Linked DNA regions of Homo sapiens. The protein of the gene in region 1 purifies or fractionates together with the protein of each later gene. This does not show direct contact. Each region holds a gene or a part of one and is shown in the gene's direction. Other genes may lie near its edges.

Region 1 (4,254 bases):
ACTCCTGCTCTGCTCCAGCTCGTTAGTAGTTCAAGCAGCAGCTTTCTGGGCCTGGGAGGCCATCCTGGGCTGCCAGGGACACTGCCTGCCAACGTAAGACCTCCTCAATTGGTGCTGACACAGGACTGAGGGGATGACAAACTGCCTGGCACCCCTTAGGTGGTCTTCCAGAGGAGTGGGTTTTGAGAATTGTCAGGCTTTCCACTTGTGGATGCATTCCAATGGTGAACTCAGTAAAAGGCCACTCTTCAGAGACCTGCATTTCTCATAGCAGCCCTAGGCATATATCCCGGGCATGACAGGGCACAGCTTGGGGTTGATGCTGATGGCAACTCTGAAGCCTCAAGACTGAGTGGGTCACCATAAGCAGCAGGAAGTTGAGGTGCCGGGATGGGGTGTGATGCTTCCACTCCTCCCTGGAACTTTGCAATACTTCCCTAGCCAGGCCGGCGACTCCATCCCGGGCTGTCCTCTCCCGATACAGGTCCACTCTCTGTGTGCCGGGGCAGGGGAGGGAGTGATGCTGCAGGAAGGTCCCTTCACCTCCAAGTCCCCACTCCTCAGTGGACAGGCCTTTGTAGGATCAAGCTTCGGTGGTCAGGCTCTGTCTTGCTTTGGAAGAAGGAGGTCTGGCTGGCTGTCGCTTCATATTAACCTGGATGACGTGACATGAATATGCCCAGTGGGACAAGAGCAGGCCCAGCAGAGGCCCCTTCCTCCTGACCATACCCTTCACCATTCTTGTCAACCTTGGGGTGTCTTGGCTGAGACCCACAGCTGAGTCCCTGCTGGAAACTAGCAGAACGCTGGGGGGCTTCGAGTCTTCTTAGGAAGGGAGGAAAGACACTCTCATTGTAATCAAAAGCCTCTCCGCACAGCAGGCCACTTCTCCAGTGAGCACGGACCCCTGGCCTGGGGCCTGGCTGAATGTAGGGTCTGCCTACAGAGAGGGAGTTTGAGGTACAGAGCACCACCTCTGCCTTCTGTTGGCCCAGGGCGGACAGTGTAGGGTGAGCCAGGGCCAGGCAGGGAGCTGGGCCCCTAGAGAGCTGTAGCTGAAAGTTAGACATGACCCTGAACCACCAGGTGCCTGCTCTAGGCACGGGGTACTGAGTGGGACATGGCTGAGATGAACAAAAAGGCATCACTGCCCAGAGTTGGGATGGGAGAGAGTCCACAGCTGATTGGAATCAGCATTGTCAGCACAGCACAGTACAGGGAGATACGCGCATTGCCGTCTCTGGATGGGCGGCTGGCACTTTCAGTTCAAAGGCGCTGAGGCTCTGAAGTTGGCAAGGAAGAGGATAACCCGGAGAAGGGAGGACTAAGAGAATTTCACTTGATGACCCTTGCCTCTTTGTGTCTGGGATGAGCCGCGCGGAGCGCACCCTTATCCACCCAGAGTGCTGTGCCTTTAAGGTCCACTGGGGGCGTGATGTCAGCCGCCCTCCGGCACTTGGAGAGGTGAGCGCGGCAGCCCGCGCAGCCGGTGACTGGGGGACTGGGTTTGGAGTAGGACCTGCGGCGTGCTCGAGACTCCGACTTCGGTCTTGCGGCGCGCTCGCGCCCGCGGGCCATGCCCCACTGACTCTAAGTGGGCACTGCCCCGGCTCCGGGAGGGCGAGACCGAGCGCCGGCCATGGGAAGCTTCCAGCTGGAAGACTTTGCGGCGGGCTGGATCGGAGGTGAGTGTGCTTACCGGGGACCCCCGGTCAGAGAGAGCGAGCCTGGCGGAGTTTGCCTCTATGCTCTGAGGAAACTTTGCCTCTGTGCGCTGCCATCCCGCTCCCCGTTGTGCGCGCAGCCTGCTTTGGGGAGTGCCCGGCCCCGAGATCCCCCTGGTGGTCTTGCAGTTGCCAGGGCTAAATTCTGAGAGCTTCACAGCGTTTCGGGCTGAGCTTCTGATTTGCTCATTAAGTTAGGATCCGTGGGACTTGATGAGGTAATGATTAAACAGCTCGTCAAAGCCCACAGCCAATGGAGGCTCCTGGCGGCGCACACACCCTTCAGTGACCTGGTGCACACCTGAATTGCGGACGTGGCTCGCGGGAACTTATGTATGAGGGTAGCGCTTGGCTGCTGATCCCGGGGCGCAGGGTGGTGGGAGCCAGGCTTCGAGATTAGGCCGGCCCAACGGGGCGTCCCGACTGGAGGGAGCAGAGCTCTCACAGCAGGGAGCGGAGCGCCGGCTGCAGGTGCCCATTGCCAGGCTGCGAGGAGCACTTATTGCCTTCAGCCGCCGCCAACCGTCAGCCATCGCCTACCTCCAAGGCCCCTTCTCCGGGCACTGTTGGGTCTGCTGATCCCTTCGCCACAGCTCCCGAAGCCACTCTTTTACTGGGCCTGGGATGGGTTGCCTGGGCGAGAGTTGCATTCATTTCCTTGCTTCTCCATTTTTCTTTCCAATTGGTCTATCCCTCTTTTCTCAGCTATTAGGAAAGGGGGAAGTTTGAGGGACTTTGCTAATTGTAAAAAAAAAAAAAAAAAAAAAAAAAAGTCTTTCTTTGGACCCATCTAAAAGGGTTATCCTAAAAGGGATGTTGGCAAATGTAGCCCCTCACCAAAGGGGTGAAAAAATAAGATGAAAAGAACAACAAACCAGATTGGATCCCAACTCCTCCCCTCCTACCTAGCAGGAGACCACCTCTCTCCCGAGACCGGTGGCTGCAGGGCCCTGCTTCACACCTTCCTGAGCAGAGGTGGCTCCTTTCACCTTGAGTAAGTCTGTTGGCACAGATGCCCTTGGGTGGGGCTGAGACCCGCCTCTCCTAACTTTCCCAGTTAGGGGGCTGCAGCCTGAGGCCCGCTGGGCATATCCAGGTCCTTTTTGACTGGACAATTATTCCACCATTCAGCGGGGCAGGCAGAGAGAGGAGACACTTCCGTGGGCTGCCCCTTAAATAAGCAGACCACCTTCGGTAGGGATGCAAATGGCTTGGTTTGAAAAATGCCCTGGAAGGTAGGGCTGAGTCAGAGTAGTTCCAAGACTCTGATACCCCTCCCCATCCCCAAACGTGATAACATGTGAACCCTCCCCGACTCACAGCAAGTAGGGGATTTTTGTGCTTTATTCTGGTCCTTACTTTGGTGATGTTATTGAAAGTAATGGCAAAAATCGCAATTACTTTTGCACCAAACTAATAACATGGCTTTTTTTTTTTTTGGCTTCCATGAAATGATGGTAAGTGTTTACTACACTTGAATACTTACTAGGTGCCAGGTATAGTTTAAGTGCTATATGTATTCTTTTAAAACAATTTTATCAAGGTTTATTTTATGTATTATAAAATTCACCCATTTCAAATGTACAATTCAATGTCTTTTAGTAATTTTACAAAGAGGTGCAACCATCACCATAAATTTGTTTTAGAACATTTTCATCCCCCAGTAAGATCCCTCATTTGAAGTTGAATGCTGTTCCCTCTCCTTAATCTCCTTTCTGTAAATTTGCCTTTCCTGTATATGTTATGTCAATTGAATCTTGCAATATGTGATCTCTTGTGTCAGTTTATGTATAGTTCTTTAATTATTATAACAACCCCAAAGAGGTAGGTACCGTTGCATCCTTATTTTACAGATGAGGAAACTGAGATACAGAGAAATTCACTGACTTGCCTAAGACCATGCATCTAGCATTGGCACCAGGATTCCAACCCAGGCTGCCTGGCACCAGAATCTGCCATCTTAATTTCATCTTAACTCTTTCTGAACAACCTTGCATAACAAAATTTTGCCCTTTTTTTGATATTATCCCCCCCCCCACCCCCCCCCCCCACACACACACACATTTTGTTTGAGATTTTACTGGTTTGTGAAGTGCCAAGGTCTGGAAATCACTGACCTTATAATCCCATTTTTTTAAATCTCAAATCCCCTGCTTTCAGATGGGTGGGCTAATAAGTGGCAGGGAGATGTTGGCCCAAGGCTGGATCTAAGCCTGCCCTGAGCTGAAGGATGTGTGCACTCACTATGGGGGAAGCCATGGAGCCTGAGGACCAGCGCACCTCCCCCCACTACTGGGAAGGGTTAATTACTGCCATCACCTCTCTGCCTCTGCCCAGTTTAGTAGGTAGGAGGGGATAAGAGGGGACAGGTGGTTCTGGACCCAGGGAATCATTGTTCTGGGATTAGCTGGTTTCTTTGTCCCTATAAATATCTAATATTCCAGGAGCCCTTAGCTACCTGGTTAAATCACCTCTACTAACACAGATATTTCCTTCCTCCTCAGTGTTCTCGGGAATTTGTCTTTGAAGA
Region 2 (3,500 bases), on another chromosome or scaffold:
AAAGAAGGAACTTGTTGGGGATGTGGGGGGGAGTGTCTGCCATTAGTCATTTCTTCCACAGAATAGCTGTTTTTACTATTCCCTGCCTTTGTCATCTTGTGTATTTCATTCATTTTGAAGTGCAGCCACAATTTAGTGCTCCCATTATTAGTTCTATAACTTGTAAGATTAGACATGTATTTTTCTACCATTTAGAAAGATTAAGATAATCTACACCTCTGTTGGGTTAGTGTGTGCTAGTGGGTTAGGCATTCATTTTTTTCTTTCCTACTCCAAATTGCCAACTTTCCCTTTGGTTATTTTTGTGTTTCCAGGAGTGCCATTGCCAATCTCGTGGGCTCTGCAGAAAGATCGTGTAACTGAAAATTTCAGCAAATAAATAAATAAATAAATAAATAAAATTCCCTTGTAGACAGAACTGTCTGTACACTCCATTTTTGTAAAGTTGGAAGTGTGAACATTATATGAATATATGATGGAGTTTTTTTTCTTTAAGCCATAATTGCATGTTCTTTTAGACCCAATATGGTATATAAAATGGTCACTGAATTTGGAATCAGAAAATCCTGGTTGAAGTCTTAATCTTTTAACTTCTTATCATTCAATCATGGTTAACAATGGTATTAATAATATTCACAAAGTTAGATATTTTGTCATTGAGTTCGTTGCTATATTGCTTGGTCGATTAGTTGATATTGAGATCGCAAGAGCATCATCACCAGTAAGTGATACATTTTCGATTGTAACCTAAGGTCGTTGTTATTTTGTAATGCCATGCTGTTTTCCTTCTTGTACTACCCATGAAATGTTTTTTTATGTTCTAACGCAATATATAATATTTTTATGTTCTTCACTTGTTATCAATTGATGATTTAATGTTGAATCCTGTTTGCTAGTTTATGATTATTCATTAAAGGCCATCTTTAAAAGGGAGAGGTGTTTAGCACATATTCAATTGAAAACTAAATGGAAAGCAAATTCTGAAAGGATTTATGTTCAAGAATTCAATGTTAAATCTAATTTTTAAAAAATTTATCATATTGAGAAATTTTCTAGAGCATCAGAGACCTTCCTTGGAAACAAGTGACCCCAGTCTTTCTAATGCAGGTTGAGTCTCTATCCACAAAGTGGCTTTTCTAGGTACTCTAGATTCCTGGAGCATCTTGAAAATAGAGTATCAAGACTCAGGGAGACCGAGCAGCCACCAGCAGGATCGTGTAAGGATGGCACTCTCATTTCTAGGAGAAGAGGCTGTATTGATGGTGACATGACCAGGCTGGGCTGCCACCTGCTGCCCACCAGGGCTCCAGGCCTCAGCATGCGATGCCTCTGAATGGCATTACCTTCCGGTCCCAGATACTCATCACTTTAGGTAAACTGAGGCAGAATAACATGCGTGACAGGATTTCCGAATGGAATATCGCTCAGTGTGCCTAATAGTCATTTAAGGTGATCTCATACAGCTATGGAGAGAAAACCCGTTTAATGCCAACCTTAGACACCAGCTGCGTGCGTGGTGATTATATCTTTAGTCCCCCATTTTGCTCCCTTTTTTGAAGAACTATTGAAGAAGAACGGAAGGAAATCGATTTTGAGGAAATTAAATTTTCTTTTGAAACAGCATGATGGTTTTTAAAACAAAGAGAAAGTGGGGAACAGGATGCTGATTACGAACCGTGCCGGGTTCTGCCTGCCGACTCAGGCTGTGCTTCTCCCTGCTCCGTCTTTGCTGCCTGCAATCGTACATATTTTAAAGAGCAGATGCGCGCTGCTTATGGATTTGTGTAAATGTGCGTGTGCTGTCTGCAGAATGCGGGGCACACCGTGCTCTGTTGACATTATCCATTATGCTCTGTTGCTCAGCTTCAGACAGCAAAGTCCTGACATGTGCAGCCGTGTGGAGGATGCCGAAGGAATTGGAATCAGGCAGCCACGAGTCCCCTGATGATTCATCCAGCACTGCACAGACCCTGGAGCTGCTCTGTCACCTTGACAACACAGCCCATGGCAACATGGCCTGGTAGGATTTTGCATATTTCATGCGCCCAGAACGAGCCTGCAGGTTGGCCAGGTGCAGGAGCTTGTGCAGATTCCTTTGCAGGAGCCACCGTCCACACCTCGGAAACGCTCCTTTCTTTTAAAAAGCTGCGAGAATTTGATTTTTAATTTTAGTCCCTGTGTTTTCTAGATTAGCCGCATTGACAGAAATGTAGCCAGCGCGCCTGCATCCCCACTTTCTCCTCTTCATCTAAGAGGAGTGTTGCCCGTGGGGACCTGCCAGAGGGTAAAGGGTCAGGCACTGCACTGCCCTCGAGCGCTGTGTGGCTTTTCAGCTTGGTCAGCATGCACTTATTCACACTCACATGGCAATTATTTACCACTTCAGGTTGAGGCTTACAATCCCTTCCTCCCGTGGACAAAGCATGAATGCGTGGTGTGCCTGTGGGGCTGCGTGCCCAAGCCCGCCCGTGTCCGGCATGTGGTGTGTCATTCACGTGGCTCCCTGGCCAGTCGCTGCTTCATGAGCTTGGAGGCCTGGCTGTGTGCACCCACTGGTCATTCCCAGGGACCTCTCCACGGCAGTCACAGCTGCTCTCTGAAGGCCCTGAGGCCTTGGTAAAAATTAAGAAGCCGTATTTTCTAAAGGAGATTGCGGGGGCATACTGTTGTTATGAGTGTTTACAATAACGATAGTGATTGTTTTACTTAATGCATTAACACATACACATGTGCGTGTGTGTCTGCAAGAGACAAATCGTTTGTACAGTGACTTCTGTCTCGTCAGTTCTACCAATTAAATAAATTTAATACAACAAATACTTATTAAATACCTGCTACAGAAACCCTGCCAGGCTCCAGGGACACCAAGGTGACAAGTTAGAGGGCCCGGCCTCCGAGAGTCATGATCTCCACGGGGAGACCCAGGGTGTACACAACTAACTGTGGCTGGGCCAGCCGTGGCGTACCCCGAAATCATTACGAACTGTACGCTGTGGCCCCGGAAGGAGCAGCCATTAATTGTTATTAGAGGAATTGAAGAGGGATTCGCTTACGAGGTGGAGTTTGGAACGGGGACTGAGGACCGACTCAGGTTTCCCTCGTCAGGTATGGAGGAGAGCAGTGCTGAGGGTCAGGCAGTCTGTGGCTCCGGATGCTCTCTGTGTATCAGTTTGTGGTGGAATTATTTTTATACTTGCTGTGCTTCTACCACGTCGGTGGATATTTCTTCTTACGGAGATGCTCTGAGTATTAAAATCACAGCCAGTCTTGCACAGTAAGGGGAGGCAGATGAAGAGTCCCAAAGTCCCCAGGAGTGATTGCCACTGCTGTCACTCCCCGCCCGAATGCAGGATCTCTGTGCAAACCACACAGCACTGTTAGGAGTTCCACATTTCAAATGATTGCCACATCCCCAGCAAATAGACATTTGTGCGCATGTGTGTGATGCACATGTGCACACATTTGTGCTTGTGTCTCTGTGCACACGTATGTGTGCACAT
Region 3 (3,500 bases), on another chromosome or scaffold:
CTTAGTGAATGTATAGAAGGAGTAAAGGTAGAGCACAATCCTGACCTGTCAGTTACTGTCAGCACCAAAAAATCCCACCAGACATGGACCTTTGCTCTCACTTGTAAGGTATGAATTTTGTGCTAGTTAAAGCATAAAAGTTGTGTTTAATTTTCTGAACGTTTTTTTGACCTTTGAATCTCTGTGTTAAAGAATATTGAAAATATTTTAATCTAAGTACATTATATATAGGTTCTATATTGTACTAAAGTATATTTCTGTACTTTGATCATTAAAAGTACAATTTTAAAAATACTTTTAGATGAGATCTTTGTAGATATTTAGGGTGCTTTCATATTTATTTATTTGGTAAAGAGATCTTTGACATATTGTCTTCTAAACTTGGGACATAGGATGGGGTTCATGGCTTGTAATTAACTACTTAAAAATTGTTTATTCTAGTAGTTCTAAGATTTTTAAACCATAACAACTTGTTTTTATATTTGATATGATGAAGTCACAAATTCTGTGATAATGGGTTTTTAATATGGGGCATTTTCTGCAGTGCTTCCCATCTTAAATTATAGTAGTCAAAGTTTAAGATCGAAGCAAAGTAAAAAGTTTCTGTGAGTATGCTCAGTGGAAAAGTTTTTGTCTTTTTTGTGGCATTTCTTCTGCTGTACTTTCTGTATCTGGAGATGAAAAATCTAAGAACAGTTAGCTTCAGCCTTGAACCCAATCCAGTGCTTTCAGAGGTAACTGCCCTCTTACGAAGGCTTCCTACTTGAGGCTACATGAAACTTCTGTAGGTGAAGAGTATGGAAAGTTTGAAGGTTGATGGTTATATAGGGTGATAGCTTTTGCCACAGTGAAAAATGAACATGTCACAGGAAGAGAAGGGAGGCTAGCGATATAGCATAAATAAATAATTTTAACAACTGATTTTAAAAAACCATTCTGATTTTTTTCTTAAATGGCTATAGTATCTTAGAAGCTTGGGGAAGTAAAAGTCCCTTATGGAAATATTTTCATTGAAGAGCCCAATTACAATTGGATTTTTCACCCCCTTGTACTCAATGAATTATTTTAACTTCCTTGTAGCCTGCAAGAATGCTGTATCGTGTAGCATTGCTTTATGATGCTCATCGTCCTCATTTTAGTATCATTGCAATATCTGCCGGAGATAGTACTACCCAGGTATCACAAGAAGTCCCAGAAAACTGTCAAGAATGGATAGGAGGAAAGATGGCCCAAAATGGATTAGATCATTACGTGTATAAAGTCGGGATAGCATTTAACACAGAAATATTTGGAACTTTTCGCCAAACCATAGTTTTCGACTTTGGATTGGAACCAGTACTCATGCAAAGAGTAATGATTGATGCAGCTTCTACAGAAGGTAATATTTAGACTTTTTTCCCCCGATACAATGTGTTAAAAAGCAACATTCAAAGATATGTATTGGCCCCTGAATATATTCCATGGATAGGAAGAGAATAGTAATAAAGAAAAAAATCCCAACTTAATTGACTCATTTACTGTGTAATGGGCTTATAATGATTCACACTGTGCCCTGATTTCTTCACAGAGCCACCAGGTAAAGCTTGAACTTTGAGGTTCCCCAAACTTGTATGAGTAGATGATCAGACCTGTTTTGGTCTACCAGTTTCATTTCACAGTAAGATGGTTTTAGCACAGTAATATCTTTCAATATTAGTTTGGGTAGAATATCATTTTAATGGTAATTGTGTATATACCTACAATGTTTATTTTCATGTCCTATTGACTAGTTAACTTTGCTGATGTTAGTACATTGTTTCTGAATGAAAAGTCTTGAGTATAATAAGCCTTCATAAATCAGTTTGTGCATCCACTAGTGTTAAGGAGGCCAAGGGTGCCTTTAATCAAATCTGCTCTTTGTTTTTGGGAAGAGGTCCCTGGTTTCATCATGTAAGCATGACATAAGGAATTACTTTGTACATTGTCAATTTATTGCCTATATCTAAATTTTATGCCAAGATCCAACAGGACAAAGAAAGGACATGTTAGCCCACATTTCCTTTGCTCTTGGTTGGATTTATAGGTGTTCTATTCTATTTAACAAAAACTTTTTATTTAACAAACACTTCAAAAAGCAGAGCTGTGTGAAACTTGCTTTTGTATTGACTATAACTAACCATATTGTGGAGGACGTTTTTTACTATGTACCATAATGTCCCATTCATGAGAACCTAGAAGTAGTTTTTCTCATTAGCGAATGCTAGAATTTTATTTTTTTTCACATAGTGAAAAGGTGAAATTGGTCTGTCTTCCTCTTTACTTTAGCTGCTAGTAAGGTTGAAACAACGATGGTGCCCAAATTTAACAGTTAGGTGACATCTTCTTCTACGTGTGCTAAGATTACCCAGACTTCACTTTACCCTTATTTCCCACTGACTTTGATCCCTTTTACTTGTTTTTATTCTGTAGTATGTATTTTTGTCATCTTTTCAGTACTCTTTGGAATCAGAATAAATTAATTTCCATAGCTAAATAGATATGGTAGTTGATAAAATAAAAATAAAGTATTTGGCTTATATATATTAGCATAGTATTTGGCAAATTCTTTCTGCAGAGGGCCAGACGGTTAATATTTTAGGTGTTGCAGGGCAGGTGATCTCTGTTGCAACTACTCAGCTCTGCGTCGTAATGAGAAAGCAGCCATAGACAATGCATAAGCAAATGGGTGTGACTGTGTTCCAATAAAACTTTATTTTCAAAAACAATGGCTACATTTGACTTTCGTGTTGTAGTTTGCCTACCCCTGAACTAGTAAGTTGCTTTTAGAGACCAGACCTTGAGAACCACTAAGCAGCATCCTTTTTAAATCATAAAGAGATTTAAGTCATAAAGAGAGAACAACATACATTTCCTACTCTCAAATATAACTGTAAAGGATGTTCTTGGCTTACATGTGGGTTGTATTTTAGAAATTTGCTTGTAGGTTAGTGGCTTATAACTCAGACTCCTTTACCCATAGAAATGTTTGTAAGTGCTGTCAAGAATTCTTATTAGTTAGTAAAATATTTAATTAATAATATAAAATGTTAAATGTCTGCAGTAAAATGTAAAAGAACGATAGTATTAAAACATGATAATTAGAAAAGGTGGTGATGAAAAGGAGCTCAGGGTACTTTCATAGGCTTGAGAAGAGTAAAAGTACTTTGACTACTTCTGCCTCAGATACGAGTTACTTTTCTTGTTGGAGAAGAGCAGAGGACAAAAATCAGAGTCAAATAGAATAGGATTTGAATCCTGATTTTCGACTTATTGCCTGTGTGAGCCTGGGCAGAGTACTTAACTTCTCTGGGCTTCACGGGGAAACATCTGTAAAATGGGGCTAGTAATACCTGTCATAGATCATTGTGACAACCTGAAGCCTCGTACGACATCAGGCTCATAGTAGACGTTTAGTTAATAGTAGCTATTATGTTTATAATTAGCCTTGATTAGGATAATTTCTGGCTTATACACAAAAGGAA

Evidence for each region. The genes of interacting proteins can lie anywhere in the genome.
Region 2: the proteins of SLC25A48 (region 1) and EIPR1 purify together in Homo sapiens (affinity purification with mass spectrometry; one large-scale study listed by BioGRID and IntAct). This does not show direct contact.
Region 3: the proteins of SLC25A48 (region 1) and HELZ purify together in Homo sapiens (affinity purification with mass spectrometry; one large-scale study listed by BioGRID and IntAct). This does not show direct contact.

The regions. Positions count from the first base shown.
Region 1 is NC_000005.10:135,833,209-135,837,462, forward strand, and holds the start of SLC25A48 (solute carrier family 25 member 48), read left to right. Parts: upstream 1-1,454; 5' UTR 1,455-1,639; coding exon 1,640-1,685; intron 1,686-1,833; exon of another isoform or gene 1,834-2,057; intron 2,058-4,254.
Region 2 is NC_000002.12:3,255,819-3,259,318, reverse strand, and holds part of EIPR1 (EARP and GARP complex-interacting protein 1), read left to right. Parts: intron 1-1,863; coding exon 1,864-2,020; intron 2,021-3,500. UniProt on the Homo sapiens protein: Acts as a component of endosomal retrieval machinery that is involved in protein transport from early endosomes to either recycling endosomes or the trans-Golgi network.
Region 3 is NC_000017.11:67,186,197-67,189,696, reverse strand, and holds part of HELZ (probable helicase with zinc finger domain), read left to right. Parts: coding exon 1-108; intron 109-1,080; coding exon 1,081-1,378; intron 1,379-3,500. UniProt on the Homo sapiens protein: May act as a helicase that plays a role in RNA metabolism in multiple tissues and organs within the developing embryo.